4 separate regions of the Homo sapiens genome follow, and all the other regions are linked to region 3. Evidence: fine-mapped expression QTL. A gene starts in region 3. Each other region holds a variant in brackets. All regions are shown on one strand. Distances are between the middles of the regions. Region 1 overlaps LOC102723759 (a long non-coding RNA gene). Region 2 holds the start of DNAJB8 (DnaJ heat shock protein family (Hsp40) member B8). Region 3 holds the start of RUVBL1 (RuvB like AAA ATPase 1). Region 4 overlaps EEFSEC (eukaryotic elongation factor, selenocysteine-tRNA specific).

Region 1 (7,543 bases), 91 kb after region 3:
AATCAGATTTTCCCCCATCCCCAGGGTATGTTTTTGTTGCTGTTTGTTATTTGTTTGTTTGTTTAGTAACTTACCTGCACAAATTCTGTAAACTCTGTATTCTTTGTTCTATATGGCCACTGAAGTCTCTGTTTGAATAGCTTAATGTCAGCTAATGATTAGACAGATTTCCTGAAACACTTGAAACCAATAGGTCTCTTAATGTTTGCTGAGAGGCTCTGCGTATGTGTTCAACACTCAGCATGCAGTTGACAGCTCTGCCTTAGCCTTCACTTTCTGCTGGTGTAGATCCTCAAGGTCAGCCTGATGTTAGAGTTTAGGGTGTTCTCAGGTTATCCCAACCATGTGAACAGCCATGGGCATAAATATGTGCTCTGCCAGTGCAAATGGCCTTCTAGATTCATAGGAATATTTTGGAGCTTTTCCAAGCCCCTATGGATGCCCATTTCCCAGTTGAAAAAAAAATCCTTTCGGGTAACCTATTAATTGTCCTAAACATTACTCACTGCCTCAGGCAGTTGTGAAATTAAATAATTCCCTCTAAATGTTTTTGAGAAATGCCCCCGGGCAAAGGCTTTTTGCGCTGGGTGAGCTCTGAGTTTCAACTCAAGTCAAATAAGACAGCCTTGCAAGTGGGATCTTCCAGAGAACTTCCAGACAAGTCAAATAATAGGACTTCTGTTGGAATAGAGCATTGAAGGAACTCTAACTCTATTCTGCTTCCTCTAGAGACTGCCAGGCTGCTGGTATTCAAGGTAACTGCAGAACTAGGAAACAGGGAGAGGATGAAGGAGGACAGAGCTCACTGTTTTCATCATGACTCAAATGTTTTTCCAGAATAAATGCTCCTAGACTGCTGCGAGCCTTTGGTTACTTTTCAGAGTTCTGAATACGTGATTTTGACCATTTTTGCTAGGCTTCATGTTGCCTTTATGGAGGAGAGAATTTTCAGAGGTCCTTACTCTGTTAATTTCACTGATGTCACTAAAGTTACAGTTTTAACTCTTATGGGTATCTATCTTTTCAGGCAATGTCAGTTTAGTAAAAGGGACAGGATGTTAGCAAAGGAAGGCATTACCAGCAATAAGAAGTGATAGCTGCCACGGGAAGCAAATGCAGAAACAGCAGCCTGGGCTGTTCCATGCAGGGGTAAGTGGTGGCTGTATATGAATTGCTCTTGAGTATACTCATATTTAACCCAGGTTATATTTGTTTGCTAGGGCTGGGGTATTTTCTTACAGTTCTGGGGGCTCGAAATCCATGATCAAGGTGTCTGTGGGGTTGGTTTCTGCTGAGGCCTGTCTTTGGCTTGCAGATGGCCCTCTTGCTACCTCTTCACATGGTCCTCCCTCTGTGCACATGCGCCCCTGGTACCTCTCTGTGGTGTCCAAATTTCCCCTTCTTATAGGGACACCAGTCATATTAAATTAGGACCCACACTAATAGCCTCATGTTAACTTAGTCACTCCTTTAAACCCTATCTCCAAAATACAATCACATTCTGAGGTACTAAGGGTTAAGACTTCAGCATATGAATATTATGGGGACAAAATTCAGCCCATAATACCACTATATAAAACTTATTCATATTGACGTCCATGAGACCTAAAAAGGGGAGGAAAGTTTTCAGTTTGGTGTAGCAGTCCTTGAAGGGAATTGTAAGGTGTATTTTATATGTATTCCGTTCTCATTATAGAAAAGTATATAATGATCATGGGATGGACTTGGGCTTCTAGAACAGCTAGTTGCAATAGTTTTTTCCTGCAGGGATGTCTGTTATGGGTGACAGTTATATGTGCAAACAGTCCCTTGGGCCTCTGTACCACCTTCATTCCCCTTTCAGGAAACCACTTTAAAAGGCCAAATGATGGCTCAATCTGATTTCTACCAAAGAAAACTATTATTAAGAGCTTACTCACAGTGCACTTCACTATGATCTAGTCACATATATGATTTTATGTATTTTGCAACATATAGTTAAATACTATTGGTTGGCCAGGCATGGTGGCTCACGCCTGTAATCCCAGCACTTTGAAAGGCCTAGGTGGGCAGACCACTTGAGGCCAAGAGTTCAAGACCAGCCTGGCCAACATGGCGAAACCCGTTTCTACTAAAAATACAAAAATTAGCTGGGCATGGTGTCATGCGCCTGTCATCCCAGCTACTCGGGAGGCTGAGGCACAAGAATCACTTGAACCCAGGAGGCAGAGGTTGCAGTGAGCTGAGATTGCACCGTTGCACTCCAGCCTGGGCAATAGAGTGAGACTCTGTCTCAAAAAAAATAAAATACTGTTGGTCTAGAAATTATACATATTAGAAAATCTTGGCTGGGTGCAGTGGCTCACACCTCTAATCCCAGCACTTTGGGAGGCCACGGCTGGTGGATCACCTGAAGTCAGGAGTTCAAGACCAGCCTGGCGAAACCTCGGCTCTACTAAAAATACAAAAATTAGCCAGGCATGGTGGCGCACGCCTGTAGTCCCAGCTAGTCGGGAGGCTGAGGTAGGAGAATTGCTTGAACCTGGGAGGCAGAGGTTGTAATGAGCCGAGATCGTGCCACTGCACTCCAGCCTGGGCGACAGAGCAAGACTCTGTCTCAAAAAAAAAAAAAAGAAAAAAGAAAAAAGAAAATCTTTATACTGCTATGTTGAGAGATAAATGAATGACTTGTACTACCAAAGCTGTTTTTGATGAACCGTGGTGTCAACTTGTATCTGTCTTCCAGGAGTTCAGCTCAGGTGGGCAAAACCAGATAACTAACATGAACAGTGGAACAATCAGTGAACCAATACAAGGGTTAAATAAGCTAGCAATTAAAAGCTGTATCACTGGTCTAAAGATAGAAGATCAAGTAGAAAATCAGCGCAAGAGGAAAGATATACGAAAACTAATGACCTTCAAGGTTTGGCTGAACAGCTGAACTGCAGGATGGATTGGAATGCCTAGAACCAGAAACTTAGGATGCCTAGAACCAGAAACTCAGCCATTGCTGAGGTTCACTGCTTCTCAGCGCTGCTGCTTTATACACACAAACTGTATTCTCTCCCACTGTTTTGTCTTCTTTCATAAAGCAGGAAACATAGGTGCTCATAACTTGTGAGTTTTAAGTCTTACTCTAGAGTTTACAAATGCAAATGCCTCTAGGTGCCAGGAAAGTGACATAAGTAAGTGAAGCAAGCTGAATGTGCCAATCCTGAGTGGTGGGGACTGGCAAACTGGAAACCCCATGCCCTGTCTCCAGAGTCAGCCATGACTCACTGCCAGTCTATTGCCAGGTAGGAATGTGAGCTTAGACTTTCAGATTTTTCCAGAGAAACTTGACATCTAGATTTTTATGTGAATATCCTGATTTCTAATGCTGGCAGTGAATTCAAACTAAAAACCAACACTGTGTTGTCCAAACAAAACACATTTGTGGGTTACATTTGACCTCTTGATTCATGTGTTACTTTTGGAGTTAAATAACTCGAGGTCTGAAAATTGACCACTGAGTTTGGCCACATCAAGCTTATTAATGACCTTGACAAAGCCAATTTCAGAAGATGATGGGGTGATGCCTGAGTAGAGAGGGTTCAGTAGAGAACTGGGGATGAGGAAGTAGCTATGACCTATATGGACAGCTCTTTAAAGGATTTGGCGTAGAGAGGAGCAGAGAATTGGGGTAAGAGCTGGAGAGCACAGGAAGTTGCTAGGGGATCTTAAAAGAGGGGACA[A/G]ATGACAGAATGTCTGTTGATGCTGATGGAAATAATCCACTACAGGGTGAAAACGTCATGAAAGAGGAGGATTATGCTAACACATGAGGAATTTCATGGGCAGGAAGAAATGGGGACTGGTTTACAAATGGAGGAGCTGACCCTAGATAGGAGCCCTTGAAGCTTGTGTATTGGGACAGGACAGCAGAATATATGGGAGCAGATGCCTGTAGATTTAGTGGCAGCAAGATAAGGGAATTCTCTTCAGATTGCTCTAATTTCTTGTGAAAGAAGAGGCAAGATCACCATCAACTGAGGGTGAAGATGGAATAGGAAGGGACAGGAGAGGTTGTGATTCTGTCATCTTGGAGTAGGCCCACATCTTGGGGGCTATCTTGGGGTGCTATGCCTTACTCCTCTTTTCTGAACATCATTAAAATGTAATTTTGTATTTTTGCATTTAATGCTATCCCGCAGGCCCTGAAAGATGCCTAAAAGGCAGCCTTCCCTCAGGTACCATTGTGCTGAGGTTTGCCACCCGCATCTTCTTGAGACAGCCCCACTAAGACAATGAGAGCGTGTCCTGACCCATTAATGTGCCCAGGTTCCCAAACGCCTCTGTCAGCCTGTGGTCTTGACTTTGAAGTAAAACCAGTCCCCTGGTTGCTGTTTCCCCAGCAACATTAACTGCTGGGGTGCAGAGTGAGGCAGGAGGAGAGTCAGACTTAGCCAGGCTTTGAGTTGCACCAGGCAGATAATGTAGAGGGAGGGGGGCAAGTCATACTTTCCTACTTGTAGAGTAGTGCTTACTTTACAGAGTACCTATGAAGATTTGTAAAAATGCACACTTGGCTTCTGGCCTAGCACATAGGTAATTCAGTCATTACTTGGTGAAGGACATGAATAATATATGTAAAATATCTGGCCATTAGAAGAAGCTGGGAAGGGCTAACAGGATGTATGAGAGACTGCTTCTGAGTCTTAATGGCCAGGCATTGTGCTGAGGCTGTGGGCCATGGAGGAGCTCCCGTCTTGGCACAGGAGAAAGAAATGTGGACACACCGCTACCGTGTAGTGTGATGAGTCTAGGAATTAAGATATACCAGTGGTAATTAAATCTCAAAATAATAGTGTCTTAACAGAAATAAACCCATGCATAAATGGTTGGTTGACTTTGACAAAGTGCCAAGTGCACACAATGGGGAAGGACAATTGGACATCCACATGTAGAAAAAGGTAGTTGGATCCTATCACACCACATATAAAAATCAACCCAAATGGAGTGAAGACTTAAATGTAAGACCTGAAACTATAAAACTACTGGAAGAAACATAGGAGAAATTCTTCATGATGCTGGTCTAGGCAATGGTTTTTTTTGGATTTGATCCCAGAAGCATAGGCAACAAAAGCAAAAATCGACAAATGGGATTATATGAAACTAACAAGCTTTTGCGCAGCAAAGGAAACAATTATCAGAGTGAAAACACAGCCTATGGAATGGGAGAAAATATTTGCAAACCATATATCTGATAAGGGGTTAATATTCAAAATGTGTAAGGAACACAATAGCAAGAAAACAAATAACTCTATTAAAAATGAGCAAAGAAGGCCGTGCATGGTGGCTCACACCTGTAGTCTCAGCACTTTGGGAGGCAGAGGAGGGAGGATAACTTGAGCCCAGCAGCTGGAGACCAGCCTAGGTAACATAGCGAGACTGTCTTGACAAATAATAAAATGATTAGCCAGGTGTGGTGGCATGCACCTGTAGTCCCAGCTACTTGGGAGGCTGAGGCTGCAGTGAGCCATAATTGTGCCACTATACTCCATCCTGGGTGACAGAGAGAGACCCTGTCTGGAAAAAAAAGACACAGGACCTGAATAGACATTTCTTAAAAGAAGACATACAAATGGCCAACAGGTATATGAAAAAATGGTCAACATCACTAATCGTCAGGGAAATGCAAATAAAACCACAATAGTATATTACCTCACATCTGTTCAAATGATATTATCAAAAAGACAACAAGAGAAAAGGGAACTCTTGTACATTGTTGGTGAGAATGTAAATTAGTACGACCATTATGAGAAACAATATGGCAGGCCGGGTGCAGTGGCTCACACCTGTCACCTCAGCACTTTAGGAGGCCAAGGTGGGCAGATCACCTGAGGTCAGGAATTCAAGACCAGCCTGGCCAATGTGGTGAAACCCCGTCTTTACTAAAAATACAAAAATTAGCCGGGCGTGGTGGTAGGTGCATGTAATTCCAGCTACTTGGGAGGCTGAAGCAGGAGAATTGCTTGAACCCAGGAGGCGGGGTTGCAGTGAGCCGAGATCGCACCATTGCACTCAAGCCTGGGCAACAGGAGTGAAACTCCATCTCAAAAAAAGAAAAAAAAAAAAACCCCAAAAAACAATATGGCAGTTCCTCAAAAAACTAAAAATAGAACTCCCTATGACCTACCAGTCCTACTGCTGGGTATAGATACAAAGGAAATGAAGTCAGTATGTGCAAAAGATATATCTGCACTCCCATGTTCACTATAGCACTATTCACAATAGCCATGGCCAGGTGTGGTGGCTGATGCCTGTAATCCCAGATGTTTGAGAGGCCAAGGTGGGAGGATCACTTGAGGTCAGGAGTTCAAGACCAGCCTAGCTAACATGGCAAAACCCCTTCTTCTACTAAAAATACAAAAAGTAGCCAGGTGTGGTGGTGCATGCCTGTAATCCCAGCTACTTGGGAGGCTGAGGCAGGAGGATCGCTTGAACCCAGGAGGCAGAGGTTGCAGTGACCTGACATCATGCCACTGTGCTCCAGCCTGAGCGACAGAGCAAGACTCCGTCTTAAAAATAAAAAAAGTAAGTTCACAGTAGCCAAGATACGTATATGTGGAATCTAAAAAAGTCAAACTCACAGAAGCAGAGAGTAGAAGGTTGGTTGCCAGAGGCTGGGGAAGGAATGGGGAGATGTGGTCAAAGGGTACAAAGTTTTAGTTAGACAGGAAGAATAAATTTTTGAGATAAATTGCACAGGTTGGTGACTATAGTTAATAATAATGTATATTTCAAAATTGCTGAAAGTAAATTTTAATGTATACTCACCACAAAAAATAAGTGAGGTGATGAATATATTAATTAGTTTGATTTAACCATTCCACAATGGGTACATATATCAAAACACCACATTGTACCCTATAAATATATACAATTAAGATTTGTCAAAAACAAAACAAAATCATAGTATCTTGGACAAGATAGAAGTTTCTTTCTTGGGCATCAGTCTGGATATGAGAAATCTTGGGTTGGTATGGCAGCTCCATGATTATGAGGCAGCTCCTTCTAATGTCGCACCACCATCCCTAAGGTTGCCCTAAGGTGTCCCTAAGGCACCCCTAAGGTGTTATCTTCTTGTGGCCCAAAACAGCTCACCATCACACCAGTGAAGGGAAGAAAAGGAGATGACTGGCACAGTGGTTCCTTGTGCTCTGGATATCACCCACGCACATCTCTTTTGCCAGAACTTAGTGCACTTGGCCATAAGGGAGGTTGAGAAATGTAATCTTTATCCTAGGCAGCCATGTGCCTGTCAAAAAATGGCAGGTTCTGGAACTAGGAGAAACTGGATATCTGGGGACAACCAGCAGTCTCTGGTAAGCTATAACAGTCATGGGAACAAAGTGCTTTGGGAAAGCGGGGAGGGGAACTGTGGAGAGGGTGGAGAGGAGGATTAGGAAGACCTTGGAGAAGAGGGAAGGGTGAGCTGGATTTTGCAGGATGATTGCTAGTTGAGCGTAGAGAGCCATGCAGTCTAAGAGAGGAGGTCCAGAAGATTGCAGTGTGTATGGTTCTG
Region 2 (7,543 bases), 340 kb before region 3:
TGGGTGGCTGGGTGTGTGGGTGGCTGGGTGGGTGGGTGGCTAGGCATGTGGGTGGCTGGGTGGGTGAGTGGCTGGGTATGTGAGTGGCTGGGTGTGTGGGTAGCTGGGTATGTGTGTGGCTAGGTGGGTGGATTGATGGGTGTGTGTATGGGGAGATGGGTGGCTATCTGCTGGTACAGATGTGTGCATACGCATGCACGCCTTTACTCTGGAAGATACTTCAGGCTTTTTTGTTCTATACTGTTTCCAGAAAGACCCCGGAAATGCCACACCCCGGAAACTGCAGAGCCCCGTGGGTGAATGGAGAGGCTCTGGGGGTTGGATCCTCCTGGAGGCTTCGAGTAACTGAGGAACTCAGGGTAACAGCCCTGCCTAGGGTTGCTGTATGCCAGGGGGGCTGGGTGCTGGGACCCTGGAGGAGGGGAGCTGCCCTAACTGGCTGAAGCAACTTGGAACTCAGAGGGCCCCGCAAATGATGCCTTCACTCAGGCAGTAAACCCCTACTTGGGGCTAGATCTGAGCCTCCAGAGACCACATGAGCCACCACCAGGAAGGATGTACCTGGGTTGGGATGGCAGGGAAGGGATCTGGGCAACCCAGTGGGCACCTGTCATCACTGGCTTGGAGGACTGGGCAGGAAGGCTGCCTGAAGAGGTCTGAGAGCAGAGCTGAGATCGCCCTGGCACCACTGGGGAGGACGTGAGCTCACTGGCCCTTCTACGGTTGCGTAGCCCACCGCCTTCCCACCCCATGGGCCACCAATCTGCATGTAAGCCTGCCATGGGCCTGTCTGCCTACCATGGCTTCCACTGGCTCACCAGGCAGGCTGCCCTTTCATCTGTCTCTGCCCACCCATTATCGACACTGCCAGGATGCCAGCACACGCACACACAGCTCCTTCTCCATTCTGAGCTCCTCACAGTAACCCTGTGAGAGGGGACCATCATTACTTCCCTTTTACAGATGAGATGAGGACACTGGGGCACAGCCAGGTTATTGACTTCCCCAAGGACACATGGCTGGGGAGTGGCAGTGCTGGGGTTGGAACCCAGGCTGTGTCACCTGACAGGCTGAGCTCTTCCCCACTGTGGGATCTGCCCCTTGGCCCGTCTGTCTGTCCATCCGCCCATCCACTCTGTGACTGCCCACCGTTCAGCCCCTTCATTCGCCTGCCACTCTGTCCATCCAGCCGCCCGTCCATCCATCCATCGCTGTCGCCCATCCATCCTGGAGCTAATGCAGTTAGAGGACCAGGGGCCCTGAGGGGAGAGAAGGCCCCAAACTGCCCATCTGGCCGGGCCAGGGTGGCCGGGGGTGGGGTGGGCTGCCCAGGCCAGGCAGGCCTGCAGGGGGCTGGAGGGAATTAGCTGAGTGACTGCCAGGATCATCTAATTAGGAACTCTAGTGATAAGCAGATAGGATCGGGGGTGATTAGAATCCTTTTAAAAAGCCACTCCATTAATTACAGAGACAGAGAGGGGCCTCTGGCTGCTCCGAATACCAATTGGCTGCTTAATCGGCTCCATCAGCTCGCCCGGGGGAGACCTTCCTGGTACTGCTGTGTGACCTTCGGTGTGCCCTGCCCTCTCTGGGCCTCGCTTGGTCGCTGAAGGTCCTTCTCTCCCTGGCCATGGCTCGGGGTTGGCTTTAGGGTGGGCCTGAGATGAGGGACATGGGACATCTGAGGCCAGGAAGCCTAGGCTGGCTCCCCAGAGAGGGCAAATCCCCAAAAGCACCCACTGGTGAATGAGGACAGAGAGGCTTGAAGAGGGGAGGTGGCCTGACAGAATTGACGGTGGAGCGTGTGGGGCCTAAGTGTGCGCTCATGCCTGTGTGTCCCTGTCCCTCCAGCAGGCCCTATGGAGGCCTCAGAGCCCCTGATGCTCCCCACTGGCTCCCCAAAAACTGGCGTGGAAGGAGACTAGCCTGAACCCTTTGCAGAAGGGAAACTCCTCTGCACACTGCCCGGCTCCACGGTCCACAGCTCCCTTCATGGGGAGCTCCCCACAGGGGCCTCCATCTCAGGATGCCCTTGATGGTGAGGTGTGGGACCTGCTCCCAGGTGACACACCTGTTCCCGTAAGTCCTACCGAGTGGTCTGTTCTGTGTGCCCTAAGACAGCCCTGAATGGGCGGCAGTGAGGGGGTCTCCAGCCCTGTCTCCATCCTGGCTGACTCCCACAGACCCATCCCAGGAACAAGGGTTGGAGCAGGGCAGTGGCTGGAAGAAATTTCCCCTGGGAGTACAACGCAGACCAGAGCCAGGGTCTCCAACAAGGCAGGGAGGGCCAGGACGGGGAGGCGGCCACAGGATTCTTGGATGCCTCATCATACTAGGTCCTTTGTCTCTTAACATTGTTTTCACCACCCCTCCTCCACTGTCCTGATTCCATCGTCATGGAAACTTCAGGCTTCACCTTTACAATGTCAGGCCACCAACACCCTCAGCAGTGTCACCATCACCATCAACACCCCAGCGTCCCATCCCCATCTCCTCTACCACTGCCACCAGCCCCACTATCACTATCATCTCTGTCACCGTCACCACGGTGCTCTCCACCCGTGTCAGCATTGTGTCACCACCACATCACTGTCACCACACTTCCTCCACCTCCATCTCCACCCACCATCCCATCTGTGACATCACCTTATCAGCTCTGCCACCAGTATCAACCACTCACACCGCCTTTGCCATCACCACCGTCATTGCCCCCTCTACTACCACCACCATCACCACCACCGGGTCTGCCTCAGCCAGACCCACCACTGCCTCTAATTAGACTGCCACCATCATCACTGCCACCACCACTGCCCCTCCAATGCCTTCCTGATGTCACCATCTGCTTTCTCTCTGCTATCCTCACACCCAACTCCATCA[C/A]AACCACCACCTTCATCTGAGCCGCCATCACCCTCACAGTACACAGCCCTCAAATGTGTACCAAGGAGGAGGACATTTACTACACGCTGCACCCTGAACAGTCTGGGACCAGCGGTCAGGGAACAAGGAATCGAGATGCTCACCTGCAGCTCCCAGGTGAGCGGCTCTCTAGAGCTTGCCTGGGAGCTGCTGAGGAGCTCACGGTATTCCAGGAAGCTCCCCATCCATGCCTCAGCCTGTGGCTCAGAAGCAGGGTCTTCGCAGAAGATTGCCCCGAGCTGTTGCAAAGCTCACCATTGTCACCTGCCTGCAACGGCCTCTCTTTTCCACTCTCCAAATCCCTTGTATTGGCAGGCTCTAGTCTGGAATTATACCGGTGATGGGATTCTGGAAAATCCCTCAGATTTCTCCAGGATGCAAGGAGACCATGGAAGAGGTTGGTGTAATGCCAAGTTAGCAACAGAAAATACAGAGCCCCACACCTCAGTGCCATCACCATCGCCATCGGCACTCACACCAGCATGTCCACCACTGTGTCCTTCTCACCCCTCGGCACCCCCCTCTACCATTGCCTCTTCCACAACCACCCTCACCACCATCCTCCATTAATAGCACAATTCCTGCCTCCTATCCCATCACCACCACGGGTGTCCCCGGCACCAGCAGCACCAACACTGCTCCCAGCAGAGCCATCGTTACCAGCCCCGCTGTCAGTCCCATCTTGAGCATCTGGCATATGTTGGAGAACTGCTCACTCCCTCTTCCCCATGGGAATCTCAGGCCTCTCTTCCTATTGCCCTGAGATTTGCAGAACCTTCCTGAAGGAAACATTCTTTGCCCCATGGATACTGGCCTTGACCATGGGATGCAGCAAGACTGCCACACATCATGGCCCAACAGAAGCTTTCAGAGGCAGCCCAAGTTCCTGCTGTCTCTGAGTGGCACTGTCATGAGAGAGGGGTGTGCAGGTCAGAGCTGATTCTCCAGCCTGGGACCCACAGTGAGAAGCTATGGGAGGTGGGGCCCTGGCAGCTGCCTGTAGGCACCAGTGAGTGAAGTGGGGGGAACTAGATGTTTGTCGTGAGCCACTGAGAGGTGGAAGCTGTCACTGTGGTATAGCCGAACAAGATACAACCTCTGCTACCTCCACCACCTTCACCTTCATCATCACCATTACTGTCACCACTGCCAACCACACCAATGGCTCACTAGGAGCCATTCCCATCACCTCCTCATCATACCTGCACCATCACTGCCAACCACAACAAAGGCTCGCTGTTACCATCTCCTCTGGCATGACCATCACCACCACCACTACCATCATCAATTACTCTCAAGCACAAGCCTTGCTGCTGTCACCACCAGCATCACCATCATCATGATCAACTCCACCATCACCCATAATTACTCTCCCCCTCACACCCACCATGACCATTACCTCCACATCAACACTGCTCCCATGGTCACCTCTACTATATAATGACACCTTATCCATCTCCATGGACACCCACCGTGCCTCTCCCCACCAGCAACACAGTCAACAGCAGTGCCTCTCCCACTGCCACCGCCATCATGGAGAACTGTGCAGGGCAAGCATCTTTCTCCCGCCCCAGGAACAAGCCTGCAAGGGACAGCAGGTGCTAACTGCTAACCGAGACATAGTGACAAAAATCCAGCCACAGAGATAAAGAATCAGGTTCATCTGTAGCTACATCCAGTGGAGAAGTTCTGCTCTTCAACTCCTCTGCTAAGCCACATGTGTCAGCAGGTGTAGGTGGGTGGATGCCCAGCATGGGGGTGCGAGTCGTGCTTTTGATAAGCTGCATGGAGGGACAGCGATGGTCACTGGAGGCTGGGTTTACAAAGTGTCTCTACAGTCTGTCTCCATTCCTCCTGGCATTTGGGATTGGTTAGAACACACACTGTCCCCTGCTAGGAGCCTGAAACCTAGCACCCATGAGCACTGAAAGAAAAGAGAGAGAGGGAGGATAATAGAAAGGGATGAAGACTAGAAAAAGGAAGAGGAGGAAGAAGGGAGGAATGAAGGAAGGAAGGAGGAAGGAAAGAAGCCAGGAGTGAAGAAGGGAGGGAAGGGAGAAGGGGGAAGGGGAGGGAGGAAGGAAAGAAAGAAGGAAGGAAGGAGAAAGGGAGGAAGGAAGGAAGGAAGGAAGGAGGAAATGAAGGAAGGAGGGGGAAGGGAGGGAGGGAGGAGGGAAGGAAGGCAGGGAACGGAAGGGAAGGGAAGGGAAAGAAGGAGGGAAGGAGGGAGGGAGGAAGGGAGGAAGGAAAGAAGGCAGGCAGGAAGGCTATCTTTAGTTAAGACTTGGTGACCCAAACATCTAGGCTCTTTATTGGTGTGGTTAGTAGGTGGTTTAGCATGGTTTTGATCTTAATTGGAGTGGGGTGAGGTGAAGGTAGGAACAGATATTAATCAGTATTGTGAATTGCTGTTTCTATATATGATCCAACACCAGAACAAGAATTAAAGGAATATAAATGCCTAAGAATATTTGGTTACCTCACTCACCTGATTCGTTTTCTAGGGCTGTTACAAATTATTACAAACTGGGTAGCTCAATACAAAAGAAATCTCTTCCCCCAGTTCTGGAGGCCAGAGGTCTGAAATCGAGGTGTTAGTGGGGCCGCACTCCCTCTGGAGGCTGCAGGGAGAACCCTCCTGGCCCCCAGCTTCCAGCTGCGTCAGTGTCCATCTCCTATACGGACATGTGTCACTGGATTTAGGGCCCACTCAGATAATCCAGGATGATCTCATCTCGACATCCTTAATTTAATTACATCCGAAAAGATCCTTTTTCCAAATAAGCTCACATTCAGAGGTTCCAAGGATTAGGATAGGAACATATCTTTTTGGGGGCCACCATTCAACCCACTACAGTCAGTAATCAATATTTATCATCAATTCCTATTTTTCTTACCAGAATTGAGTGGAACACTTCTTTGGATTTGCTGTCCGCTGCAGCCTTGGCCCTGGTTTCACATCCCCTCCCTCACTGACTCGCTGTGTGACCTTGAGCACTGTGTGTCTCTGAGCCTGGTTCATCCAAGAGTTTACCGACGGCCCTCGTGTGCCAGCCACTGTCCTAGACAGGGACAGACTTTCCCGCCTTTGTGGAGCTTACCCCGGAAGACCTGGCCAGATAATGGGCACAAAAAAAGCAGGCTCTTGTCCCCACCCCAGCCTGCCTGAACCCCACCTTGGCCTCCTCTTGCCTCAGCTGCTGCCCAGCCATCGGCCGAGTGGACATACCCAGGACGCCCTTGCCCGCCTCCCCCACCACGGCCACAGACCTTTGTCACTCACCAAGGCTGGAATCCCGTGGCTGATCCTGCCTCTGCCCTTTGGCTCCCGGGACTCAGCCCACACCACCTGGGTCACAGAGCATCCCATTCCCACACACCGTTGTGGCCACCTCACCAGCAGGGGCAGGCCCATATGCCCAGGTTTGCCTGGTGAGGAGCTGGGGGCGGGGGTATGCCCCGCCCCGGGAGCTGACGTCATAAAAGGAGCTCTGGAGGGCAGCCCACTCTGGCCTGGCCCCACAGCGGCAGTGTCCCTCCCCTCCCCCCACTCCTCTCAGTGGGGGCCCCTCCAGTCCCTGAGAATTGGTACTACGAAAAGGTGAACTCCTGGGCAGAATCTTGCCTAGAGCTTGCGGAGTCCAGCCAGGCCCCTGCTGAAGGGCCCCAGACCACCGGCCACTTCTCCCCCGTCCATCTGACCAGCTGGGCCCCTGCGCCCACCTGGCCTCCACGTTCCCTCTCCTCTCACCCACACCCCTGGCCATGGCTAACTACTACGAAGTGCTGGGCGTGCAGGCCAGCGCTTCCCCGGAGGACATCAAGAAAGCCTACCGCAAGCTGGCCCTTCGTTGGCACCCCGACAAGAACCCTGACAATAAGGAGGAGGCGGAGAAGAAGTTCAAGCTGGTGTCTGAGGCCTATGAGGTTCTGTCTGACTCCAAGAAACGCTCCCTGTATGACCGTGCTGGCTGTGACAGCTGGCGGGCTGGTGGCGGGGCCAGCACGCCCTACCACAGCCCCTTCGACACCGGCTACACCTTCCGTAACCCTGAGGACATCTTCCGGGAGTTTTTTGGTGGCCTGGACCCTTTCTCCTTTGAGTTCTGGGACAGCCCATTCAATAGTGACCGTGGTGGCCGGGGCCATGGCCTGAGGGGGGCCTTCTCGGCAGGCTTTGGAGAATTTCCGGCCTTCATGGAGGCCTTCTCATCCTTCAACATGCTGGGCTGCAGCGGGGGCAGCCACACCACCTTCTCATCCACCTCCTTCGGGGGCTCCAGTTCTGGCAGCTCGGGGTTCAAGTCGGTGATGTCGTCCACCGAGATGATCAATGGCCACAAGGTCACCACCAAGCGCATCGTGGAGAACGGGCAGGAGCGCGTGGAGGTGGAGGAAGACGGGCAGCTCAAGTCGGTGACTGTGAACGGCAAGGAGCAGCTCAAATGGATGGACAGCAAGTAGGCGCTGGCCACCCGGCCCTGCCTTCCCACCACCACCACCGTGCATGGGGCAGCAAACACGTGGGGCCGCAGACATAGCCTGATGGTTAATAAATGTGCCAAGTGAGTTCATGGCATAGCTTTCTCAGCTTTGTGGGGACATGGGGCCAGCTCCAGCCTAGTGA
Region 3 (7,543 bases):
AGGAAACAAGTGATTGAGATAATCAAGCTTGGGCTGGAGAAAGAGAGGTCAAAGGCCTGGAGGTGAAAGAGCAAAGGTCGTGGGAGTAAGGGAATGAGAGGGTCGTGGGAGTGAGGGAATGAGAGCTGGCAGGTCTAGGGCTGTCACAGCACAATTCTGGAATGTAGTAGTCCACACAATTACTTACATATGTGTCACTACATTGATATGGATTTTCAGTACCCACAGATAGAAATCTAACTCAAACATCTTAAGCCCCAAAGTAAATGCCATGTTACACTGCAAGTAAGGCGAGGATGATGCAGGGATATAAAGGATTTCATCGGGAATCTCTTTCTGTCAGCTTTCCTTTCCTCTGTCTTGGCTTCATTCTCAGGTAGAGTCTCCCCATGAAGTAACAAAGAAGACCAGCCTGCAGATCCATTACCTACATTTTCTCTCCTGATATGTCCAGTAAATTGCCAGGACTGACTGTCATTGAACTAGCTGCTCACATTTCTGAGCCAATTACAGTGTCTGAGAGGATGGGATACTGATAGGTCAGGCCAGGGCCACGTGTTTACCACTGAAACAAACATGGGGTGTGGGGTCAGTTCGCCCAAACTACGCAGACTCAAAGTGGGAGAACGGTCATTTCCTGAAGGAAAACGAGAGTGGTGGTGCGCAGAAGTGGGATGGACGCTGGTCAGGAATAACCCTGTCCACTGCAGCAGGCCTCACTTGCTGTTTATTGGACTTGTGTAGCTTGGATACTGGCCTGCCACATTGTTTTCTGTTGAAATGAAAGAAATTGTCTGACTTTGCAGCCAGGTCCAGCATCTTTACACACTGGATCTGTGTCAGGCATTTGCTCAATTTGTGACCTTGGACAAACCCTGTCCCTTCCTGGGGCCTCAGTTCCGTCACATGTAAAATGAGAATGCTAGGCCAGATCAATGACCTTTTTTTTTTTTTTTGAGATGAGTCTTGCTCTGTTGCCCAGGTTGGAGTGCAATGGCACGATCTCGGCTCACTGCAACCTCCACCTCCTGAGTTCAAGCGATTCTCGTGCCTCAGCCTCCTGAGTAGCTGGGGTTACAGGCGCCTGCCATCACGCCCAGGTAATTTTTGTATTTTTAGTAGAGATGGGGTTTTGCCATATTGGCCGGGCTGGTTTCGAACTCCTGACCTCAGGTGATCCACCTGCCTCGGCCTCCCAGAGTGCTGGGATTACAGGCGTGTACCACCGCCCCTGGCCCATCAGTGATGTTTGAACTGTTATTTAGCACACACACACACACACACACACACACACACACAAAGGAACAACTCTGGTGGAAGTGGGGGCATGGAGCTGGTATCCTACACTCTCAGCATTCCCTGTCCCCACCCGTACTGGCCACAAAAGGATTCCACAACTGCTGGGAATGTGGTTTGAAAACCACTAGACCAAGTAATCCAGGGGATATTCCTCTGTGCTCTAAAATCCTGATTCTCCCTTTCTCTTTTTGGACTAGAAGGAAATCCTTCTTTCTGTGCCAAAAGATACAAAGACTAGGGCTGAAATAATAAGTGTAAAAAAAGTCTTTTTCCTTAATTGGACAATACACAAAGAAGTCAGTCCCATAGAATGCCTCACTTTGACTACTAGTTGGTGGAAAAGTTTCCTTCTCCATATAGAGAAAGGAATTGCTTCTTTTCTAAGAGTAATGACCAGGAACAAGTCAATGAGGGGCTAAGCAACTTTGTGGGGTGCTGTCTCTAGTGCTGATGAACCACATGCCCTAGTAACAACCTCAGCCTTCCAAGGCCTGGCCTCTGTTCTTTTAGGCCCTGAAAATGCCAAAAGATTCCATTCACTGATGGAAATCATTACCAAGTCCTATAAAAGCCAACGTGTAAAATACATGCAGCAAAACTGATGAATTCAAGTGTATGTGTTTGTGTGTGGTCTAGAACCTTAATTGAATTCATGAGAAGCCTTAATTGTGAGCTGTGTTGTAGGCTGTGTGCCAGGCACTTAGGTTAAAATGGTAAACAATCAAATGTGGTCTACACCCTCAAAAGGCCTGCAGTTTACTGGGAGAGAAAAACATTGACCCAGTAATTATGCAAATCATTAGAAACCTAGATTCAAAAGAAAAGAAAAAAGTATATAGAAACCTAGATTCAAATGTTAGAATCAAGATGTACAAGGAGGTGTGAGAGGCCGGGCGCGGTGGCTCACGCTTGTAATCCCAGCACTTTGGGAGGCCGAGGCGGGCGGATCACGAGGTCAGGAGATTGAGACCATTCTGGCTAACACGGTGAAACCCCGTCTCTACTAAAAATACAAAAAAATTAGCCGGGCGTGATGGTGGGCGCCTGTAGTCCCAGCTACTCGGGAGGCTGAGGCAGGAGAATGGCGTGAACCCGGGAGGCGGAGCTTGCAGTGAGCCGAGATTGCGCCACTGCACTCCCGCCTGGGCCACAAAGCAAGACTCCGTCTCAAAAAAAAAAAAAAAAAAAAAAAAAAAGGCGGTGTGAGACTGTGGAACTACTGTAATTGGATTTGATTTCAGGTCTGTCTCAATTCTAACATAAACTCTCCTGCACTCTGGGCAAGTCCTTCCCTTCCTCTGGATGTTAGTATCCTCTTCTGTAAAAATGGTGTCATACCATTTGCTTCTGAGGAAATCTCTCCTATTTGTTGGAATTCAGCCAAGGCAACATCACCTTCATGATGCCTTCCCTGGCTCTCCAGGCTGTTCCGGGGGCTTCTGCTCTGGTCTTCTCGCCACCTGGGTGTACCTGTCTCAGCACATCTCACGTTGCAAGTTTTCTAAGCAAGAAGTAAACGCATCAAGACTTTTATCCCTGTATCCCCAGTGCATTGTGGTGTCTGGCTCGTGTTTGTTGAACGGATGGATGGATGGATGGCAAGTACAATTGTGGTGCAGGTTGTGCTAATATCATTATGAAACCTGAAGGGACAATTTGCTGGCTGATTGTCTCAGCTGGAGTCATGGGACGTGATGAGCATTATTATATAGGTTTTGAAGCCTGAAGATTTCTAGTTCTGATTATTTGTGATGCTTTCTTGGGCGGATGGGCCTCTTTCCGCTTGTTTGTAGCTGCATGCGTAATTACACTACCTTACAGGGCTGTGGAATTTTGAAAACTGCAAAATGTTATTTACAGTCAACTGAACTCAGCAGGAACCTTATCTCTCGGTGGAGGATGGAGGATAGAAGCAGGGGAAGACAATTCCACGGAAACGGTGGTGGGTTGAGCTGGGCCTTTCCAGGGAGATGCAAAGGTATGGGAGTCAGAAAACATTGGTTAGTAACCAATCCCAGTTTAAGCTCTGAACCTCAGTTCTTCTGTTTCCAAAACGGAAATAATAACTTGAGATTTGCGTAAGAGTATGACGTTCAAATGTGCTAATGGATAGGACGGAAGGATTAGGAGTGGTACCCGGGGGCCACTGCCTCGTGCAACGCCCCAGCCCTAGATCAAATCCGGGGCGTGGTCCCACTGTGCTCCCGACCCCAGCCTCGGCAGGAAGCGCCGGCTACGGGGGAAGCCAACCCGGAGACACAGACGGAAGTGGGTGACCGGAGCTCTAGCAGCAGCCGCGATGGGCGCAGCCGTGAGCCTATGGAGAGCGGAGGTGTTCCCGCTTCCACCAATGGAAAGCCGGTCTAGGCGGGCCTTTGCAAATTGCCCTAGTAACGGCCGCATGGTAACTCAGGCGCCGGGCGCACTGTCCTAGCTGCTGGTTTTCCACGCTGGTTTTAGCTCCCGGCGTCTGCAAAATGAAGATTGAGGAGGTGAAGAGCACTACGAAGACGCAGCGCATCGCCTCCCACAGCCACGTGAAAGGGCTGGGGCTGGACGAGAGCGGCTTGGCCAAGCAGGCGGCCTCAGGGCTTGTGGGCCAGGAGAACGCGCGAGAGGTGTGGCCAGTGGACCAGGGAGTTGGGGGCTGCAAGCAGGGCTGCTGCGGCGAGAGAGCTGCTGAAGTCGGTGGCTCGGGGCGGGATGCGCGCGCCAGGGGTCTCCCGCCATTATTTCCTCAGGGAAGTGAAAATGGGCCAGGGGCTCGGGGAGGGGCGCCGCCCTGGAGCTGGGTGAGGGGCCGCCCCAGGATACCTAGTGACGATCCACTGGGGGCAGTTGACGGTTTGCCAACTCATGGACAAGTGCTGATATAAACCCACACAACCCCGTCCCCTTAATTCGTACCAGGCTCTATTCGCGACACTGGGATACAGCGGGAATTAAGATAGGAGCTTACATTTTAGTGTAGTGAGAGACGATAAACGTGTACACCAATAAATAAAAATAATTATCTTATCTTGGTGGGGTTAGTTACTGCAGGGCTTTGTCGGCCACGGTCAGGAAATTGGATTTTATTGTGAATGCAGTGGCAGGCTATGGGACGGTTTAAAGTAGGGAATTGACTAAACTTTAAAAGCTCATTTTGGTTCCCAGGATCCGGGAACTGAGGGAGAGAAGTGGGAATTATGGAGAAGAGCAATCTGGTTTATCCACCCCTCCAAGCATCCTTTTTGACCATTCCAATTAAATCTCCTTTTTCTAAGTGCTGGTGATGCCAAGTACTTTCACATACATATTATTTTTTGGCAGGTGAAAATATTGAGTTGGGGAGAGGGCACTTCACGTATATGCTTGACACTCGTTTTAGTAACGGTAAACCTGGGGTTTGCACCCACGTGTATTTCTGACTCCCAAATCAGTGCTCTATGATGATACAGCCACCCTCTCTGCCTGCTGTTCTCTAAGGTCACAGCCATGCCCCTTGGCCTTTGGAGAGCCTTAGCTTCTACAAAAATCTTCACTTAATATAAAGTTAAGCTACTGCCTCTTAGCCTGATTTTTCTAAATGGAAAGGCCTCAAAGAAAAGCCTCAGGTTTCCATTTTGAGCATCATCTTTCCAAAAAGGAAGTGTTTGACCCTGGCTTACTAAGCAGCTAGTACTGCAAGTAGCTAACATTGGTTGAGTGCTTTCCATGTGCCAAGCACTGTGCTAAGTAGCTATATGTCCACTGCCTTGTCATATCCAACGTATTAGTTGTCCCTTCCCCGCTTTAGTATGACAGTTTTCAGACACAAAAAAAGTTGAAAGACTTGTAAATACTTGTGTGCCTAAATTCTATAATTAACATTTTACTGTGCTGCTTTATCATATATCTTTTCATCTGTCCCTCTCCCAATCCACTTTTACATTTCAAGGTGAATTGCAGGCATCACTACACTTTACCCCTACACCCTTTAACCTGTGTGCCATTGACTAGTATGAACTCTGTTCAAGTGAGGAAATTCTGGTTCATAGAGGTCAAATAAGTAGGTCCAAGGTTACTCATCTGGTAAGTGCGAGAGCCAGTATTTTAACTCAAGTCTATGTATTTAAACCCAGAGTGCATGCTCTATGCCTAAGTGCATGCTCTATGCCTAAGAGTGATGCTGTATGCCTAAGACCCACCTCAGCTACCAGGTTCTTGTGTGACTCTGGTCACATCAGTAACCTCCCTGAAAAATGAGAGTTAGACTAGGTGATCTTTTAAAGACCCTTCCAATTCTTTTTAAATGTTAGAATTCAAGCTTATCTCACCTGAGAGTAGTTGGAGTGGAAATTGAGGGAGAATGGATGGAAGAGGTCCTGGTCTGTAAATAAACGCACATCTCCAAGGTTTGTAAAGTCTCTTCTACCTTGGGTTTCCCAAAGAGCTTCAGTGCTGGGGATTATGATATGACAGGGTTGTGTGGAAAGACCATAGTAGTTTTTTTTTTTTTTTTTTTTTTTTGAGACGAAGTTTTGCTCTTGTTGCCCAGGCTGGAGTGCAATGGCGCGATCTCGGCTCACTGCAACCTCTGCCTCCTGGGTTCAAGCGATTCTCCTGCCTCAGCCTCGTGAGTAGCTGGGATTACAGGCGCCTACCACCACGCTCGGCTAATTTTTGTATATTTAGTAGAGACAGGGTTTCACCATGTTGACCAGGCTGGTCTTGAACTCCTGACCTCAGGTGATCACCTGCCTCGGCCTCCCGAAGTGCTGGGATTACAGGCATGAGCCAACGCGCCTGGCTAGGTTTTTTATCTATTTAGAAATATAGCATCTGGGCCGGGCGTAGTGGCTCACACCTGTAATCCCAGCACTTTGGGAGGCCAAGGCAAGTGGATCACCTGAGGTCAGGAGTTTGAGACCAGCCTGGCCAACATGACGAAACCCTGTCTCTACTAAAAATACAAAAATTAGCCGGGTGTGGTGGTATGCGCCTGTAGTCTCAGTTATTCGTGAGGCTGAGGCAGGAGAATCACTTGAACCTGGGAGGTGGAGGTTGCAGTGAGCTGAGATCGCGCCATTGCGCTCCAGCCCGGGTGACAGCGAGACTCCATCTGAAAGAGAAAAGAAAAGTAGCATCTGAAGAATATCTTCTAGGTTCTATTAAGGGCAGTGTGCTTTGGTAACTGAAGTGGAAATGGGATGGATATAGCATACCCACACACATTGCTTACATCATTTTTTTTTTTTTTGAGAGGGAGTCTCGCTCTGTCGCCCAGGCTGGAGTGCAGTGGCGCCATCTCGGTTCACTGCAAGCTCCGCCTCCTGGGTTCACGCCATTCTTCTGCCTCAGCCTCCCGAGTAGCAGGTGGATTACATGGTCGGGAGATTGAGACCATCCCGGCTAACATGGTGAAACCCCTTCTCTACTAAAAATACAAGAAATTAGCTAGGCATGGTGGCAGGCGCCTGTAGTCCTTACATATTTTTTGAGGGGCTGCCATAAGTGTGGGACCAAGGTACTTCACAGTCCATGAGGAATAGAGGTAGAAGAGATAAGATGTATTCACAAGACTCTGGCACAGTGTGGTCACTGCCCAGAGAGAAGAGCACCTTTTAGATAGTCACGTATTCAGTTATTAAATCAGTGTAGCAAACCTTATATTATGTAATCCTGAGATATAGATGCTCAGCTAGTGTAACTTTCTCAGTGTTCCCCCCTTATAGTCAAATATTCTAAAATATATGAAGTTCCATAGCCCATTTATGGAATATGTGTGTGTATATATACACACATGTGTACTGCAAATGGTTAATAAAATTCAGAGATTTATAATGTATTTAAAATATACTAACAGATGATAAAGTAATTTAACCTTGAGGATTCAAAACATATTCAATGGATCTAATAGTGCCATAGGTTTAACTTCACATTCAGTATTTACAGTGTTCACTGATGGCCAGCTAGTACTCTATGTCATTGATTCTTACCCCTTAATAGGTTACTCTGGGAATTTGATGAAAGCTATGGATCCTTTCTCTGGAAAAAATGTATATATGAACATAAACACAGTTTCGTTCCCAACTTCAAGAGGTATTTGGGCCCCTGGCGTCTATCCCTGTACCCTGGGCCAAAAATCAGTGTTCCCACTTGTACTCATACTGTGCATTCTTCACACAGTAGTAGCTAGCACCATCTTTTAAAAACAAATCATAGCATGACACATAGTCTTCAAGACCTTTTCAGTGGCTTTGTATTATTTATGTAGAATAAA
Region 4 (7,543 bases), 120 kb before region 3:
GATGAGGAAACTGAGGTCCACAAAACACAGAGAGCTTGCCCAGGATCGCACTGCTAACACGCAATAGGGCTGGGTTTAGGTATAGGCTCATCTAACTCCAAAACCCGTGCCTTTCTATTGCACCAATCCTATCACTTTCATTCCATTTGACAGAGGAAGAAATGTCTCAGCAGGGGGAAAAAAAAAAGTTTCGTACTAGGCTTGGCAAATGGCTAGATACTTGCCCTTGCTAAGAAATGAGAGAAGACTGAGAAAGTAGAGGAGGCAGAAGGGGGAGGATTAGGGAGTGGACAGCATCTTTTCCTCACAGTGCTACGGCTCAGTCCTATTCCTTCTGGGGTGTTAGGAGCATCTAAGGTTCTGTGTCATAATCGCTAAGTACTGAACATTTGTGTGCGTGTGTGTGTGTGTGTGTGTGCGTGCACGCTTGTGAGCATCATCCTACTGTACAGCACACCTGAGCTGAACAACAGCAGGTAGACAGACAAGTTACAGAAAGTGAATGAAGGGAAACTGCTATAAATCATGTCAGGAACATAATGTTAGCCAGTGAAGTGACTGTTTCCTTTTTAACGGGATTTGGAGTCATTTCAACAAGAAGCGTGTAACTTCGTACTGCAGGAATATACAAACATTTTCCCTATTAAAATGAAGAATAATTACATTTTGAGCTTATAAGAATGCCCATGAAGCATTTCTCGGGATCGGATTATGGTCATTGGCAATGCAGAGGAGACTGCTCTGTGAATGACTCTGATGATGCTGATTCTATCCCACTGCTGGGGATAGAGGGAAGGCATGGAGGAGGGAGGGCCTTTCTTTTTTCGGGCACTCTGACTACGCACACTAGGTCAGCTTACTTAATCTCCAGTAAACTTATGTTTCAGATGAAGAAACGGAGACTCACAGACATGGGTCTAGGTCATGTGCTCTAGATCACACAGCCAACTAGTATCGAAGACACTAGAAATCAGGGCTCCTGACACCACTGCTGAAGAATTCTTCCCACTGTTCCAAGAGGCCTCTTGGTCACCCCTGTCCTGTGACACTCCTCTGGCCTCCCACAGAACGGTGTGTCTCTCTGACTTCAGGTAGACCTAGGCATGCCCCAACCCTCCTGTCTCCCACTCTGCTTCTCCCTGTCCAGCCTCCTCTCCTCATCCTGCCAGCTGGGGCCACAGGGCTAGGCTCAGGTGCACGCAGCAGCAGCAGCAGCATCTCCTCTGCCAGGTCAAGGGGCAGGAGGGCCCAGGTCTCTGCTACAGCCACAGAGGGGATGGACACTGACTCTATCATCTACCGTGAACAGAACAGACTATTAAAAACAGGCTCGACTCATCTGATAGACTCCCTCTCATAGCTACTGAATTACCAACTCTCCTCTGGACTCTTTCTCTGTTCCAGCTCCAGTTCCCATAGCCCATGGCAGGCTCATGTTGGCTAGTCCCTAATGGGCTGCTGCAGCTCAGATGTGGCCCTCCAAACTCCATCCTCCAAACAGCCTTCCCAAAGGCACTTTCTAAAAATATATCACTGATTCATATACTGCTGGGCAGGAGCGGGGGTCGGGGGTTAACTGGTATAACCTCTGCAGAGGCACATAATCTTTGACCCAGCCAAGCAGCATGTTTGTTACAGCTAATGCTGGAAACTAGGTAAATGTCCATCAGCAGGGGACAGGTTGAAAATAAGAATATAATGCTATAATGCCATGACAGAATACTATACACCCATTTAAAAGAATGAAGAAGCTCTTTATCTACCACTATGGAATGATATCCGAGGCGGAGTGAGTGAGAAGGGCAAGGCACAATGTGCAGAGTGTGATTTGTGTTGAAAAGGGGATAAGGTATACGTGTGTGTGTATGTGTGTGCACGTGTGTGGGTGTCACATACTGCATAAGTATTTGCTTCGACACACATAAAATATCTCTGAGGGAATGCAAAAGAAACTAATGACTTGGTTGTCTGCTGGGAGACCAAAGATGAGTAGGAAGGAAATTCTCTGTACATTCTTCGGTTCCTTTTCATTTTAAACAGGGATGTGTAGTATCTGTTCTAAAATAAAATTATAATTTTAAGTGCATAAATAAATAAATAATACAATAAAACACAGACCTGACCATGCCCTTCTCATGCTAAGAGCCCCACTGTCCACTGGAAAAAAAAAAAAAAAAGACTCCCCAATGTGGCTGTGGGAGGCTCCCTGTTTTTTAACTACCAGTTGCTTCCCACTCACCTTGTGCCAAGCACCATGCTGTGTGCTCCACAAACCCTTTCCTGGGCTTTTCGCCCTCTCTCCATGGCCCCATGACACTCATGCCTCCCTCACACAAGCTGAGCCCAAGCCTTCCCTACCCAGAAGATACACCCAACTGTCTTCCGGGTCCTAACCATCAGTAAATCTGGGAACTGGCCACAGGGCTGTGAGACTGGGTCTTGAGGCAGGATGAGATAAAGCCCAGCAGGGAACAAGGAGGGAGGAACACGTTGGGGGCCCAGCCTATTTTCCAGTCTCCACCTTCACAGCAGAATGGATCCTGCACTGGCCCCACAGGCCTCCCTCTCCGGTGGGTGAAGCTGTGCCCACAGAACCAAGGCCACTCAACCTCATGCGTTCCTTAAGGACTTCTCCAGAGTAATTCTGACTATCCAAGTTCCCTCTAGAACTTAAACACCTGCCACTACCTAGCCCCTAATTTACAGATGAGGAAGTCGAGGCTTTAGGGAAGTCCGTTGACTGCTCATGGTTATACAGCAGGTAGGTGGCAGAGAAGAGATCTGAACCCTGGTGCCCAGGTTCTTAACTCCCACGCCACACAGCCCGCCCTGCCCAGTGGGGACCCAGCCCACAATTTCTCCCCCTCCCCCCATCAACTCTCCCACTTCCCATCTAAAGATCAAGGTAGGACCCAGGTGGACTCTCGCCCCTTTCCCTTCCTTGCCTTTGCCCCTGCTCCTGCTTTGCCCAGAACACCTGCCCCAGGTTCACTTGCCCCTGATCCTTGATGCCCCACCCGGCTCCATGCTGAGGGTTCATAACCAAGGCCTGGGTTTTCAATCTGTATTCACAGCACAAGACCCAGCTTGGGCACAGCTTAATACATCGTTGCTGGACTAATGCAGCAAATGTCCATATCCCTGCCTCTTCTACTTTATTCACCAGGAATCTGTTCCTCTTCTTCAACAGTCGATTTCCTATTGGTATACACAACTATCCAGTCAACTATCCAGTAGGGGAATGACTCATGTGCTCCACGCATCAGGCCCTCTTGCTTCTCACGCCTATTGAGATCCTGTGGATGGGAAATGAAACTGATTGACAGACCCAGAAAACTAAGCATAGATAGGACCCAAACACTCAGGAGCCAGTTGGGATTTCATCTGCAGCCTGATCCAGCATCCAAAAGCCGTCTTTGTTCCAAAAGGCCAGGCTCTTGAGCGGACCCCGTGCAGCGCAGCCAGCACCAGGGACTTCTAAGGAGCCCAGAGGTCAGAGGGACTTGACTGGCCACACTGGGAACCAGACTAGCACTGGAAACCCGGGGTCATCACCAGGCAACTGCCTGCTGCCTGGCAGCAGCTCTCAGTTACTTTCTTTTCTTCATCAAACTTTTGATCAGACGACAGGAAGTGACACAACTGGCCCGTCTTGCCTTTTTCAAAATCCCTAGTAGTTTCATAGAATGAATCAAACAGTGTCCTTCCCAATTCCCATGAACCCAGGGTAGAAAATCGCTCTGAGACTAGAGGGACATAGCGAGTGAGTGGGTGGGAAACACAAGACAAAAAAATCAAGGCTTATAAATGATCCTCTATATTTCCCAATCTATCAGAGTTTTTCATCTAGTTGTACTGACTATAGTATCCTTAAAAGATTTGCAGAATAATTATAATAGGGTTAAAGTTTCTCAGTACATTTAAAAATTACAATTTCCAATTCTGTAAATTATATATCTTAATCATTTCAAAAATAATGAAAAACTTACAAGGGTCAGCATTTAACAAAGCATAAGTTATCTGTGAGGTGTAATTTTCCTTTTGGGACTGAAGGAATAAAATATGTTCAGAAAAAAATATTTCAGCTGGAGAAACTTAACATTATACTTTGAACATATTTTAGCAACCTCAAAATCAGATTTTTTTTTAAAAAAGTCAAAGCTATGGGCATTATAAGAAGGAGAAA[A/T]AATGTTACATTTAAAATAAAGAAAAAAAAATTTATTTCCAACTTATATTTTAAGTTCAGGGGTACATGTGCAGGATGACCAGGTTTGTTATGTAGGTAAATGTGTGCCATTATTTGTTATTTATTTATTTATTTTTTTAATTTTAGAGGCAGGGTCTTACTGTTGCCCAGGCTGGAGTGCAGTGGTGCAATCATAGCTCACTGCAGCCTTGAATTCCTGGGCTCAAACGATCCTCCTGTCCTAGCCTCCCAAGTAGCTGGGACTACAGGTGCATGCCACCATACCCAGCTTATTTTTAAAATTTTTTTGTAGAGGTGGAGTCTTGCTATGTTGCCCAGGCTGGTCTCGAACTCCTGGCCTCAATAGATCCTCCCACCTCAGCTCCCAAAGTGCTACTAGGATTACGGGCGTGAGCCACTGTGCCTGGCCAAAATTTGTTTTTGACTGGTGACTTTTTAAATATTCATTGAACAATGTAAATACATTTTATCAACAATATAAAACTGCAGTGGCAATTAATATCCTACTATTATTATGACCATTTGCCAAATACATTAACTCTCTCTGTGCCTCAGGCTCCTCATCTTATACAAGGACGATGATACTGCCTATGTTATTGGATTGCACTGAAGATTCAATGAGATCAGATATGTAAACAATTTAGAACAGTGCCTAGACATATGAAATCCTCAATTATATTAGCTGTTACCACGGTTTTCACTTCTACATCTGCTATTATGACATGCACAGTGGTGGTCTACATGTCTTCATCTCCTCTTACCTACATCTCAACACCAACTCTGCAATGTGGGTATTACAAATGGGAAAACAGGCTGGGTCTGTAACCCCAGCACTTTGGGAGGCTAAAGTGGGCAGATCACTTGAGCTCAGGAGTTCAAGACCAGCCTAGGCAACATAGTGAAACCCCGTCTCTACAAAAATACAAAAATTGGTTCAGCGTGGTGGCACACGTTTGTAATCCCAGCACTTTGGGAGGCTGAGGTGTGTGAATCACTTGAGCTCAGGAGTTTGAGACCAGCATGGGGCAACATGGTGAAACCCTGTCTCTATACAAAATACAAAAATTAGCTAGGCATAGTGGTGCATGCCTGTAATCCCACCTACTTGGGAGGCTAAGGTAGGATAATCACCTAAGCCCAGAGAGGTCAAGGCTGCAGGTCAAGGCCTGATTACACCACTGTACTCCAGCCTGGGTGACAGAGTGAGACCCTGTCTCAAAAAAAAAAAAAAAAAAAAAAAGAGAGAGAGAGAGAGGACAAAGGCTTAGAGAGGTGAAGTAACCAAGTCAGGTCAAGGAGCAAGGATTCAGAGGGATTTGAACTCAGTCTACTGATTTTGCTCTACAACAGTACCCTGAAACTCTGAGCAGCAAGATCTTATGTCCAGAATAAAACAATTGCTCTGTACAAGCCCCCTGCGGGTGTTCCAGGACAAAACGGGCAGGTTTCAGAGGTCCCCAACTCAGAACACAGCTTCTCAGACTCCAGGGCGAGAGCCTTATATTATTATTTGCAGCTGTTTTTATTCATTTATTCAATGTATTGCCTATCTCCTCATTATACAGGTAAGAAGACTGAGGCTGAGACAGGTTAAATAACTTGCCCAAAGCCACCCAACTAGGGGCAAGAACCCAGGACTGATCAGGCTCCATCCAACACAGGTTGCAGCTGTCCCAACCCTGACTCTCTGCCAAGGGCAGGGGATGGGAAGGCAGCAAGACTTCAGTCACATTGCAGCCCATTCTGCAGAGAGAGCAAGGAGAAAATCAGTTTTAAGGAGAATTAGTTTTCCTCCTTCTGCAGTTTTCCTGAAACAGGGTAAGCCTGGACTTTCCCTCTCAAATTCCTACTGGTACCAGGAAGGTGTGGGACTAACCAGCAGTGTCCAGCCTGTCCTCCTCAGCACAGGCTCAGAGGATTTGGAAATGGAAGGGGCTTAAACAAGAGGGTCATTTTAAAGACCAAGGAAACAAGGACCACAAATAAGAGGAAGTGGCAAGAGCAGGGCTTGGAGGTCCCCAAGCTTGGATATGTTCAAATCACAACCTTACCAGGAGCTTCAATTTCCTCATCCACAATCAGGACCTAAACAAAGATGTCTCCTGCAGAAGATTAGGAGAGACTCAGCCCTAAGCACCCTCAGTAAGCAGGAGCTGGTACTAACAGCTGTGAGCACTGAACCTGGGCCCCATCACTCTTGGTCGAACTGTAACAAGGCCTGCTGTCCCCACTAGTCCAGGCAGACCCCAGGCAAACACAAGTGGACAAAGCCTGCTGATGGAGTTGGGGAAGGGGAAAGGGGAGGAGAGAAGGAGGGCGGTCACGACCAGGCCCTGCACAGTGCCTGTGACCTAGCACCCACCTGGGCACAGGGCAGCATGCCACACTCATGCACTCTCTCTCAGCCTTTCTGCTTAGCCCTCTCACTGAAGCCAAACATTCATGCTGCCCATGCTGCTAACAACCACCAGGTTACTCCATCGACTGCAGGAGGTGCTAGGAGTTTAACAGGCTAGAGGCTCCTGGCCAGGCCCAGACCCTCCAGTGGGGACCAGGTGGCCAAAGGAGGCCCCAGTCACAGGAGAAGGCTCCAGGGACCCTGGTCCTTGTTATCACCATTTTCATGAACAGTTTCAGATGGAGGGGAGTTTTATAAAGCTATTCACCCTCTCTGTGCTCCATCTCCACATCTGTAAAACAGAAACAATAATTGCATTTCTGTTTTCTACTGACAGTGGTGTCTACCACTCTAGTTGGAAACTCAGGTTCCTGTAGAGGAGACAGCCCAGAGGGAGGGCATGTTTTGATCTGAGGCATGTGATCAAGGAATTCATAGAGAGGGGTGCTGCCTGTGGGCAGGAGGAACGGGGTGGCAGCTTGGAAGCCCACCTCAAGTTCTGAGGCAGGCGGGGGCAGAGGGTAAGCATCTCGCTCTGCCAGCTGCACAGCCTCAGGCAAGTACACCTCTTGACCTCCTGGAGCCTGGGATTCCTCCTTGGAAGATGCTGATGCCAGAGACAACACAGTAAGTTGGAGGAGGGCACCTCACCCAGCACCTGCCACATGCCCCAGACTCACTAAATGCAAGCTGCTGCAAGTATCACTATGCCAGCACAGTAAGAGCTCAAGAACTGGCCTCCTCCTTCCTTTAGGACTCACATATACCCAAAGGCCTTGTGCCCTCCAGAGGAGGAAGAGGAAGAGTATTAACGGCAGCATGGAGCGAATACAAACAGTGCCTCCCCCAACTCCTGTGGACCCAGGAGCTGGCCCCTCACGGGGTTTCTTGGTAAGTGCCAGCCAACAGCCTGGATCACTGTATCCACCACTGGGCAG

What was found. PIP is the estimated chance that this variant, and not a neighbour inherited with it, causes the effect. A credible set is the group of variants that fine-mapping cannot tell apart.
Region 1: its variant is the best candidate, but not a certain one, in a credible set for the expression of RUVBL1 in whole blood (TOPMed, PIP 0.65).
Region 2: its variant is the best candidate, but not a certain one, in a credible set for the expression of RUVBL1 in T cells (TOPMed, PIP 0.81).
Region 4: its variant is the best candidate, but not a certain one, in a credible set for the expression of RUVBL1 in whole blood (INTERVAL, PIP 0.59).

What each region holds. Positions count from the first base shown.
Region 1 is chr3:128,028,985-128,036,527 of GRCh38, reverse strand. It overlaps LOC102723759 (a long non-coding RNA gene), which reads left to right. Exons shown (of 4, transcript XR_007096073.1): 3 at 1,028-1,149; 4 at 2,726-4,533. Among named protein-coding and RNA genes, the nearest start is that of SEC61A1, 20 kb to the left of the region's middle. RefSeq lists a silencer at 68-362. The variant A/G (reference allele first, on the strand shown) is at 3,714.
Region 2 is chr3:128,462,384-128,469,926 of GRCh38, reverse strand. DNAJB8 (DnaJ heat shock protein family (Hsp40) member B8) reads left to right here and starts at 3,037. Exons shown (of 3, transcript NM_153330.6): 1 at 3,037-3,313; 2 at 4,491-4,651; 3 at 5,817-7,490. The coding sequence starts at 6,682. The coding sequence ends at 7,380. It overlaps DNAJB8-AS1 (DNAJB8 antisense RNA 1), which reads right to left and starts at 6,333. Exons shown (of 3, transcript NR_037890.1): 1 at 6,200-6,333; 2 at 5,814-6,027. The variant C/A (reference allele first, on the strand shown) is at 2,878.
Region 3 is chr3:128,119,958-128,127,500 of GRCh38, reverse strand. It overlaps RUVBL1 (RuvB like AAA ATPase 1), which reads left to right and starts at 3,689. Exons shown (of 11, transcript NM_003707.3): 1 at 3,689-3,917. The coding sequence starts at 3,777. RefSeq lists a silencer at 3,638-3,697 and an enhancer at 3,888-3,937.
Region 4 is chr3:128,239,106-128,246,648 of GRCh38, reverse strand. The region is part of intron 1 of EEFSEC (eukaryotic elongation factor, selenocysteine-tRNA specific); the gene reads right to left. Among named protein-coding and RNA genes, the nearest start is that of EEFSEC, 89 kb to the right of the region's middle. The variant A/T (reference allele first, on the strand shown) is at 4,187.